Linked DNA regions of Homo sapiens. The protein of the gene in region 1 purifies or fractionates together with the protein of each later gene. This does not show direct contact. Each region holds a gene or a part of one and is shown in the gene's direction. Other genes may lie near its edges. The genes, in order: FBXW10, MGAT1 and TPST1.

Region 1 (3,650 bases):
CTTTATAAAGTATAGATGTTCTGTCTACATCTAGAGTGTGTGCAGAGATCCTGGAGTGACAGCATGGAGTGTGTGGTGTCTGCGTGGAGGGTCTATGAAGGAGAAGAGGCCTCCCCATTAGAGAGCTTTCCTCATTCCCAGCAGCAATAGTAATATTGGGTTTGGAAGCTGTGCTTAAAACAAACAAAGAAACAAAAACACTGAATTTCAAGACATCTGTGTGCAGAGTACCTTCTTGGCACCCTAGGTACGTGGCACTCACTCCAGGAACAGAAATTCATTTAAAAGCATTTTAACTTGAGGCCAGGCGCAGTGGCTCGTGCTTGTAATTTCAGCACTTTGGGAGGCCCAGGTGGGTGGATCATTGAGTCCTGGAGTTTGAGCCCAGCCTGGGCAACATGGCGAAACCCTGTCGCTACTAAAAACACAAAATGAGCTGGGCGTGGTGGTGCGTACCTGTAATCCCAGCTACTCAAGAGGCTGAGGCACGAGAATCGCTTGAACCCAGGAGGCGGAGGTTGCAGTGAGCTGAGATCATGCCACTGCACTCCAGCCCGGGTGACAGAGCGAGACTCCTTCTCAAAATAAAAAAATAAAAATAAAAAATAAAAAAGCATTTTGACTTGAGAAGTGAAACAATCGGAACATATGTGCCCCGATCATGTTTATTTTTTAAAGAAAAGAGTGACAAAGCTAACGACTCCTGCTGCATCTCCTGGTAACTTTCACCACTCTCCACCCTCCAGCTGCCTACACTACTAGTCTGTTTGGTCATCACCTGGGCACTGTTCCTTTAGTCTAAAGACCAGGTGGGATGGTAACTGCAGTGCATCTTTCGGTGGCCTCCACAGTCCTTTTGTGGACAACCCTGTTGTTTCGGTTCCAGGATGGTGGTCAACACAGAGAGCAATGTTCTCATGTTCCAGTTTGAGCACATAAAGTGGCAGTATGCCGTGGAAAAAACGAAACAAAAGAAGAATAAGGAGAAAGAGGAGGAAAAAGAAGAAAATAGTCTCATGGAAATTCTCTCTAAGTGTAATATTCAGGTTCACAGCCCAAGAGAGTCTGTATCCAGTAAACAAACTGTGATCCAAGAGCTCCTACCAGGCAAACCTCCCAAGTCCCGAGTACTCCTGAAGCCGGCCAAGTTCTCTTCAGGTAAAAAACTGAAATACCAGCAAGTTCAGTGATAACCCACAGAGCAGGTCGGGGTTTGGTGGGGGTGGTGGGAGACGGGGAGGACTGGTTCGTTTGTGGAATATTTTGGCCAGTGGTTTCCTGAGGATATAAATCCTAACCCTCCAGGAAGGTAGGAGCCATTCTCTCTGATCCACTAAACAATTTATCAGCCAGTTAAAGGGAACATTCTGGTTTGCAAAAGCTAGATTTTCTTTCTTTCTTTCTTTTTTTTTTTTTTTTTGAGATGGAGTTTCGCTCTTGTTGCCCAGGCTGGAGTGCAATGGCACAATCTTGGCTCACCGCAACCTCCGCCTCCCAGGTTCAAGCGATTCTCCTGCCTCAGCCTCCTGAGTAGCTGGGATTACAGGCATGCACCACCACGACTGGCTAATTTTGTATTTTTTTTTTAGTAGAGATGGGCTTTCTCCATGTTGATCAGGCTGGTCTCAAACTCCCGACCTCAGGTGATCCTCCCGGCTTGGCTTCCCAAAGTGCTGGGATTACAGGTGTGGGCCACCGTGCCCGGCCTGCAAGAGCTAGATTTTCAAACTTATAAGAACCTTTGCACAGTAGATAAGACTAGCCTTAATACTTACCACTGAAACAAAAAGCAAGCAACCAATACCCCCACCCCCCAAATTCAAAACATATATTACATAACTATTTCTTCAAGACAGAGACAGAAGTTGTTATAAGCAGAAAAATGATCTGTGCAGAATGTATTGTTTTTAGACCTGAGAGATAATGTTTGTAGCTGGAAAATCTTACGTATAAAGCAGGTGTGTGTGTGTTTGTGTGTGTGTATGTAGGTGGGGGTGCAGGCATGGCCAATGCCATTTATAAGACATCCAAATAATACATTATGTGTGGGTTAGAGTAGCAAGACTCCTTCCTTTTACCAGCCCTATATTTGGCATGTGAAATTGGATCCACAGATCTATAGAGAACAATGATAAATCACCCCCAAGCATATCACACTACAAATAGTCAGCTATCTCTTGAGAGGAGGGAACTGAGAGTGTTAGCTAATGCTTAACAGTAGGAAAAGTGGGTGGGAGGGGGAATCAGGATGGGATCTAGGCCTTAGAATTGCCAACCTAAAATAACCAAAAGATTCAGGATCTAGCTAAAAGAGTTTACCCGAGTGCAAAGTTTGAGGGCAGCATCCAGGGACACAGGGGCACCAAAGACTAGTGACCAGTGTTCCTGGAGTGGGGAAAAGTGAAGATCCTTTAAATAGACAAAAACAGAGGTGCTGAACAGAATTCAGTTTTCCATACAAAGGCTAACATACAGATGTAAGACTAGATCGGCTACTATTGATTACACTCTAATGGTTGCTTAGCATTCTGCTGTAAAGAGGTGACAATTACAAGGGGAGTTGCTTAACATTCTGCTGTAAAGAGGTGACAATCACAAGGGGAGTTGCTTAACATTCTGCTGTAAAGAGGTGACAATCACAAGGGTGTCTATCTCCACATCATTTAGTCTTGGTTTCAATGAAGAATAGAGAGTCTGGTTAATGGAAAAGACCTCAGCACAAAGGTCTGGAAGGAATGGTCACGCACCAGAGCAGGAAAACAGCTGCGCTATGTGACTCAGTTTCCAGGGTTTCACTTTTCCCTGTCACATACGTCAGTTTAGAAGGTTGTTACACTCTCTTTACTTTTCACAGACTCCAGGTAACTACTTGGTTTCATACGACAATAAACAATATGGTGTTTGGTAGAAAAATACAGTTAGATGGAAGGGATAAGTTCCAGCGTTTGGTTGCACGGTAGGATGACTACAATTAACAATAATGTATAGCCGGGCGCAGTGACTCATGCCTGTAATCCCAGCACTTTGGGAGGCTGAGGCGGGTGGATCACCTGAGGTCGGGAGTTTGAGACCAGCCTGACAAACATGGAGAAACCCCGTCTCTACTAAAAATACAAAAAAATTAGCCGGTGTGGTGGCGCATGCCTGTAATTCCAGCACTTTGGGAGGCTGAGGCAGGAGAATCACGTGAACCCAGGAGGTGGAGGTTGCGGTGAGCCGAGATCGTGCCATTGCACTCCAGTCTGGGCAACAAGAGCGAAACTGCATCTCAAAAACAAACAAACAAATAAACAAAAAACCAATAATGTATTGTATATTTCAAAATAGCTAGAGGAGAAGATTTGGAATGTTCCCAACACAAAGAGATGATAAATGTTTAAGATGATGGATATCCTAATTATCTTGATCTGATCATTACACATTTTATGCATGTATCAAAATATCACATGTACTCCATAATTATGTATAATTATGTACCCATAAAAAACAAGATAGTGATATTTTGTATAAAAATCAGTCCAATTATCAGCCCCATTATTATTGATTATATTATTTTATGCCCTAATCGAAGTATATAATGACTACAGCTTCTTCCTCAATCTCAATTTAGCAGTGTTAATAGAGGAACTTCAAAGTCAAGGAAAGTCAAA
Region 2 (3,650 bases), on another chromosome or scaffold:
TATCTAATTGATACATAATATTTGAGCCCTGATATAATAGAATTTAATTGCACAGTTACATGGAAACAGACTTGACGTTTCTGAGAAGACTGATGTCCTGGCGTGGTGGGGGTGGTTGGTTTCTAGGAAGAAGACAAGTGGTTGGTGGTGAATGCTGGCAGGGGCTGGTGAAGTCTCCCCAGGAGGGAGACAGAATCCATGTCTCTTTAGAGGCCCTTCAGGATCAGCCCTTTTATACCAGATCTGCTGGTTTGAGAGCCCAGAGCCTCAGAGGTTAGATCTGAGGCCCAAGGTTTTGGCCAGGATTAGAGAGTAGCCTGTGAGGCAGAGGGCAACTGGCAGAGCTGTTGGTGTAAGAGGGTGCACGCCTGAAGCTTTGGGGTGTAAAGGGTAGACCAGAGGCAGGACAGTCAAGGAGTTATGGTCTGGAGTGGCAGCTGGCTGGGAATTGGGGAGTGTTTCAGATCCTTTCAAGTAATGTGGTCTGGTAGAGCTTGGAGGATTGGTGGGACCATGCCTTTTTCTCACTGGTTTGTGTCCTGGTTCCTTCCCAGAGCCTGGCAGAGAGCAGGTGTGTGATACACGTCGTCAGGTGACTGACCGAGGAATTCAGGGCAAACAGATCATCTCAATTTGCCTTGCTGATGTGCCAGCTGGGATTACGCTGATGGATGAAGCTCTTCAGAGCTATGGGCAATATCTACATATTTGATTGTCAAGAAACTTCGTGTGGAAATAGCTTCAAACTTACACAAATTGCAAGAATAAAAAATAGTATAAGGATATTCGTACACACTCTCTTTACTCAGATTCACCTGTTAATATTTTGCTCCATTTGCTCTCTATGTGTGCAGAGTATGTTTTTGTTCTGAACCATTTGAGAAGTTGCATCTATCCTGGTCCTCTACTTCTCAATACTTCAGTGTGTATTACCTAAGAATTGGAATTAATCAGTTATCACTGATACTTTAACCTACTGTCCATATTCCACCTTTGTCATTTTACCCAATAACGTCTTTTTAAAAAAAGTTTTTTGAGGTTTCATTGACATACAATTGATATCAATATGTGCAAAGAACTGCATATAAAGTGTACAATTTGATAAGTTTTGACATATATGTGTGTGTGTGTATATATATATATATATATATACCTGTAAAAGTATCACCACAATCAAGATAATAAACATATCCACCCTTCTAGAAGCTTCCTAATGCCCCTGTGTAGTAACTACCCTACTGCCCTTCTCTGCCTCCATCCCCAGGCAACAACTGATCTGCTTTCTGTAATATAGATTAGTTTCTATTTTCGGCAGTTTTATGTCAATGGAATCACAGTGTATGTGCTCTTTTTTGTTTTTCCCAAAAAGACCCATATTGTGTAATTATTTGGAGATTGTGTTGTGTATGTCAGTGGTTTATTCAGTTTTATTGCTGAATATTATTCCATTCTATGAGTAAACCACAATTTGTTTATCTGTATTTCCCTGTTGATGGGCCTTTGGGTTATTTCCAGTTTTGAGTGATTATGAATAAAGTTACCATCAACACTCCTGTGTAGGTTTTTGTAGGGACATGGCTGAAAGTAGAAAGAAATGGGGCATGCAGGAGAGACTGGGCTTGGTTATAACAGCCTGTTATCCCTGGGGAACTAGCTCACTCACCAGAGGACGTTAGGAAGGATCTGCCCCTGCCCCCCTTGTGATCCAAACACCTACCACTAGACCCCACCTCCGGCAGCACCACCACACAGGGGATCAAATCCCAACATGTGTTTCAGAGAACAAACCATATTCAAGCTATAGCATAGCTACGTAATTATTATAACACTATTAATAAGACCATCTTTGCCTTGGGAATTTTAAGTAGCACCTTTATTACATATTAGATTTTTTTGTGTAATGAGTCTGTTTCTGGAGCTTAAATTCTATTTCACTGGATGGTCTGTTTATTTATGTACCAGTACCACGCAGTTGTAATTATGGAGGTTTTGTAGTATGCCATATATATATATATATAATAAAAAAAAATTTTTTTGAGACAGAGTCTCACTCTCTTGCCCAGGCTGGAGTGCAATGGCACAATCCAATCACAGCTCACTACAGCCTCAGCCTCCCAGACTCAGGTGATCCCATCTCAGCCTCCTGAGTAGCTGGGACCACAGGTGCGTGCCACCATGCCCAGCTTTTTTTTTTTTTTTTTTTAATTGTTACTTGTAGAGACAGGGTCTCCGTGTGCTGCCCAGGCTATTCTTGAACTCCTGGGCTCAAGTGATCCTCCTGTATTGGCCTCCCAAAGTGCTGGGATTGCAGGTAGGAGCTACTGCATCTGGCCAGTATGCAGTATTTTCATATCTGGTAGGGCTGAGTCCCTCCTCACAGCTTATTTTTATTGTTTTCCTAGTTTTTCATGTGAACTTTACTGTCAGTTCGTCTAGCTCCATAAAAAGGTATTTTTATTGGGATTTTTGATGATGCTGAAATGTCCTGACCAAGAACAAGGGATATTCAGATGTTCTTTTGTGTCTTTCAGGAATGATAGTTTTGTTCACATAAGTTTTGAATGTTTAAGTTTATTTAAGTTTATTTCTAAATATTTTCTCATTTCTCTGGCTTTTGTAAGTAGGGTTTTCTCATCCATGTTTTCTTCTCATGAGTTATTTGTGGATATGAAGGCTATCCATTAGTATATGTTGATTTTTATATTACACTTCCTTGCTCAGTTCATTATTGATTCTTTTTGAGTTTTCCAGGCATATTCTCACAAGTAAAGATAATAGAAATAGTTTGCTTCCTTTCCACTTCTGCTTTGAATTTTTTTTTCTTGGTTCATTTGCATTGGCTGCTTCCTCCAGCAAAATGTTAAATAACCCTGGAGATGATGGGCAACTTCGTTTTGCTCCTGACATTCGTGGGGTGCCTCTGGTGCTTCCCTGTTGGTAAGGGGTTAACTGTAGCCCTGAGGTGGGACATTTGATTTTAAAAATCAGTCATCTTGGGGCGCTTAGGTTAGAGGAATGGTAGGCAGATGCTGTCACTCCTTGCCCCTCCCCTCCTCCTTCCCACCTGGAGGGGAAATGAAATCTGACAGGTAGAAAGAGGGGAGTTGGGGTTCTTTTTCTCTCTCCCTCCACCAGCATCACTCTCTGCCTCTCCCTCAAAAATACGTTCCTGGGTCAGGATATATGTTGACTCCCTAGAGAGCTCTGGAGTCAACCTCCTGGCCTTCCTCCACCCTCACTCTTGGCCTTTTCCTGCCCCCATTTCCTCTACCTGTGGGGCATGGAGCCACGAGCCTTTGTGTGACGGTTTGCTTTCTCTCTCCTGTCTTTAGGTGCATGGCTGCCTCCTAATCCCATAGTCCAGAGGAGGCATCCCTAGGACTGCGGGCAAGGGAGCCGGGCAAGCCCAGGGCAGCCTTGAACCGTCCCCTGGCCTGCCCTCCCCGGTGGGGGCCAGGATGCTGAAGAAGCAGTCTGCAGGGCTTGTGCTGTGGGGCGCTATCCTCTTTGTGGCCTGGAATGCCCTGCTGCTCCTCTTCTTCTGGACGCGCCCAGCACCTGGCAGGCCACCCTCAGTCAGCGCTCTCGATGGCGACCCCGCCAGCCTCACCCGGGAAGTGATTCGCCTGGCCCAAGACGCCGAGGTGGAG
Region 3 (3,750 bases), on another chromosome or scaffold:
CTCAAACTGCTGGGATTACAGGCGTGAGCCACTGCACCCGGCCACACACAAAAACTTCTACACAAATGTTCATAGCAGCATCATGTATAATAGCCAAAAAAGTAGAAACAGATGTCCATCAATGGATTAATGGATAAATAAAAGATGATGTCCAGCCAGGCACGGTGGCCCATGCCTGTAATCCCAGCACTTTGGGAGGCCAAGGCAGGCAGATCACTTGAGGCCAGGAGTTCAAGATCAGCCTGGGCAACTTGATGAAACCCCGTCTCTACTAAAAATATAAAAATTAGCCAGGCATGGTGGCACATGCATGTAATTCTAGCTACTTTGGAGGCGGAGGCATGAGAATCACTTGAGCCCAGGAGGTGGAGGTTGCAGTGAGCCAAGATCACATAACTCCACTCCAGCCTGGGAGACAGAGTGAGACTCTTCAAAAAAAAAAAAGGTGATGTCTGTATAATGGACTATTATTCGGCCGTAACAAGGAATGAAGTGCCGATACATGCTACAACATGGATGAACTTTGAAAATATTATACTGTGTGCAAAGGAAGGTAGTTACCTTCCCGGGTTCAAGCAATTCTCCTGCCACAGCCTCCCCAGTAGCTGGGACGACAGGCGTCCGCCACCATGCCCGGCTAATTTTTGTATTTTTAGCAGGGACGGGGTTTCACTATGTTGGCCAGGCTGGTCTCGAACTCCTGACCTCAGGTGATTCACCAGCTTTGGCTTCCCAAAGTGCTGTGATTAGAGGCATGAGCCACCCCACCTGGCCTAGCAGAGAGCAATTTTGAATACAGCTGTTAGATTCTGCACTCATGCCTTCTCTAATCCATGTCACTGGAGTAGAAATAATTGCTTTGACAGAACCTGGTGTAGATGTGTCTGTAGGAAGAAACTGTAAAATGAATGGATCATTTTGTGAAATATCTGCCCTTTCCCCACCTTTCTTTTGCTTCTTTGCCTTTTTCTCCCTAGTTTTCATTTCTTTCTTTTAGGGCGTCAGCCCCCCACCTCTGTGGTTGGGAGGGACTATTGCACGTCTACACTCTCGTGGGGATGAAATAGTGTTTGAGTTCGTTATTTGCATTTGCGCGTTATCTCCCCGAGGAGATGACAGCTTCTCTGCCAGCAGCGGGCAAAGGTGGGCTCTGAAGCAGAGGAGAGGAATTATCAGGAAAAGCTCATTTTCTTCTCCTGTCCTAGGGTTTCACTGATGAAGGCCTCTGGGACACCCACGTTGGGGGTGGGGGCGGTGAGGACCGCCACCTGCCCGCGGCTCCCCTGCAGCCAGGCCACGCGCGCTGTTGCTAGGGCAACCACCCGGCCAGGCCTGCGGCTGCCGGGAAGCCCCCTCGGGAGCGCGCACGGGAAGGGCTGTGGGGGCGCTGGCCGGCTGCGACGTCAGACCCCCGCCCCTCGGCGCCTGCCGGACCCAGCTCCATTCCCAGCCGCGCCTCCTTCGGTGGGCAGCCGGCCGGAACTCACGAATCAGAGCAGCCGACACATCGTCCGCTCAGCCAATCGTAGCAGATGTGTGATCCCGCCACCTCCCCGGACCCTGGCGGTTGTCGCTGAGTTGGCGACCGCGGGAGACGCTGCTGAGGCGGCTTCGGTTGCGGGTCGGAACGGCGCTGCTCTGCGGGGCCGGTCCAGGCTGGCAGCTGCCGGCGCTTGGCGGTGAGGGCGGGCTCCCGAGTGGCCCCCCACCGAAGGCGGTGGGACCAGCGGCTGAGGCCAGGATGCCGTCCAGGCGGCGCGGCGGCTCCTCACTCATCCCAGGTAAGGGGGACGCGGCGCTCGCTGCGGCTCCGCTCCCCTCTCGTCTCCTCACACCCGGCCCTGTGCCCCGTCCTGGCATCCCTTGGCCCCTTGTCGCCTTCTGCTCGGTGCCTCCCGGTTGTCCAACCCCGCCCCCGAGCGCGGAGCCCCGGGTCTGGCCCGTCCGGCCCCTGCTCCCACGCCCCTTCCCCCATCGCCGGCATTTCCCGGGCTCGGCTTCGCCCCGGCCGCCGGGGCCTCTCCCCTCTGCCCTTTCTCTCCCTTCTCGCAGCCCTGGGACCACGTCCTAGCCCCGCAGTCCCCTGGGATGAGACCCTCGTCTCGCCGGGATCGGACATTTGCCCCCACGTCTACCCCGGCTGCGCTTCTTGAGCTCATCGCCCCATCATCCTACCCGTTGTACGTAGTCCTGTCTGCATGGCAGTCGCCCGCCCCGCTCCAGGTGTCCCTGGGTCTTGCCCTTTTGCTCCTAAGCACCTTCCTTTCCCAACTCGCCTCTTCTCCCCTCACTTTGACCACCCACCATCGCAATCTCCTCTTCCTTCTCTTACTCTTAAACCTCCAGACACTTTCCCACTCTCTGCAATGCCGGATTCATCGCTTTTTTTTTTTTTTTTTTTGAGAGATGGAGTCTCTATGTTGCCCAGGCTGGCTTCGAACTCCTGACCTCAAGCTATCCTTCTGCCTCGGCCTCCAAAGTGCTGGGATTACAGGCGTGAGCCACTGCGCCTGGCTCAGATCCATAGTGTAATATCTTCATTCGTCCTTACATGAGCTGCACCCCATAACATGTAAAGTCCCTTGCCCAGAGTCTAGCACACAGTAGGCCTGGCACATGGTGGGTGGTCACGCATGTTAGCCTCTTCCTCCTTCCAGGCGTTTTGTACTTTCCAGATGATGGTAGCAAGAAGTCCAGTGTCCACAGGGATTTGACTCTGCCTGAAGAATGGTATGGGAGATGGCAGGAGAAATTGGTGAACTCCAGTAAAGCGATTAAATGGTCAATTACTGCATTCATTAAGAAGAAACAATTCTGCTATCCGTGCCATGTATTGTTTTATGTTAATTGCCTTTGTAAAGGATTCTTAGGCTGCTAGTCAGCAGGCTTTGCGGTGTAATTACTCCCCATCCCCTCTCCATCCCCATCTGCAGTGTTTGGGTAACTTTCTTTTTAGGAAAGAAAGAGCCCCTACCTCCCAGCTAAAGTGGCATAGTATATAAGCAATGTGGTACGTGTTTATCTATTAGCTGGATAGTCCAGGGAGCTGCAATGAATTTTCATCTTTTAAGATCCAGGAGGAATCAGGATTTGGATTTCCTGGAATCAGCTGCTGTACAGACCAAATATGCTTAAGAATGAAACTTCTGACAAGTCCTCTAAGAGTGAGAGAGGAATTATCCACCCCTCTCCCTCCCCCTCTCCAAACACTCGCTCTTGGAGGAAATAGCGAGTCGATTTTTAAAAAAGAGTAAAATACGTTTGACTTTTTAAAATGATAAAAGCATTGTCATTGGCCCTGTACTATTCTTGCCACCTTTGCTCTGATGGTCTCAAGCCTGGACGAATCAGTCAGCTTTTTCTGCTCCTGGGCTCCCAAGGCAGACTGGCAAAAATCATATAACTAAACTGCTGGGTGCTGTTTCTGCACTTCTGGATCCTGGAGATCCTTTGACTTAACCTCTAGATTCCTCTTATGTCCTAAAATCTAAATGGCTGTTTATGGATCTTTACCATTTTTCTCTGACTCTTTGTCCTACTCTTGCCTTCTCTTCATTGCTTATTTTGCCACTTAACTTCACAGAATAAATTGGTGGGCATCAGCCCTGAACTCTTAAGGAGAGGTCATTTTTGTCTGTGCCTGTCTGTACCTGATTTCTAATATCCTTTCCTCTGATCTCAGAAGAAGAGGGGTCTTACTTTCGAAAGCTAACGTCTTTGATCTCTTCCCATATTATTATTTTTTCTGTT

The links.
Region 2: the proteins of FBXW10 (region 1) and MGAT1 purify together in Homo sapiens (affinity purification with mass spectrometry, with the first as the bait; one study listed by BioGRID). This does not show direct contact.
Region 3: the proteins of FBXW10 (region 1) and TPST1 purify together in Homo sapiens (affinity purification with mass spectrometry, with the first as the bait; one study listed by BioGRID). This does not show direct contact.

What each region holds. Positions count from the first base shown.
Region 1 is NC_000017.11:18,771,526-18,775,175, forward strand, and holds part of FBXW10 (F-box/WD repeat-containing protein 10), read left to right. Parts: intron 1-886; coding exon 887-1,158; intron 1,159-3,610; coding exon 3,611-3,650. UniProt on the Homo sapiens protein: Probable substrate-recognition component of a SCF (SKP1-CUL1-F-box protein)-type E3 ubiquitin ligase complex which mediates the ubiquitination and subsequent proteasomal degradation of target proteins. Overexpression is leading to degradation of CBX5 and CBX1.
Region 2 is NC_000005.10:180,792,780-180,796,429, reverse strand, and holds part of MGAT1 (alpha-1,3-mannosyl-glycoprotein 2-beta-N-acetylglucosaminyltransferase), read left to right. Parts: intron 1-554; exon of another isoform or gene 555-1,549; intron 1,550-2,063; exon of another isoform or gene 2,064-2,163; intron 2,164-3,332; 5' UTR 3,333-3,458; coding exon 3,459-3,650. UniProt on the Homo sapiens protein: Initiates complex N-linked carbohydrate formation. Essential for the conversion of high-mannose to hybrid and complex N-glycans.
Region 3 is NC_000007.14:66,203,742-66,207,491, forward strand, and holds the start of TPST1 (protein-tyrosine sulfotransferase 1), read left to right. Parts: upstream 1-1,592; 5' UTR 1,593-1,781; exon of another isoform or gene 1,782-2,180; intron 2,181-3,750. UniProt on the Homo sapiens protein: Catalyzes the O-sulfation of tyrosine residues within acidic motifs of polypeptides, using 3'-phosphoadenylyl sulfate (PAPS) as cosubstrate.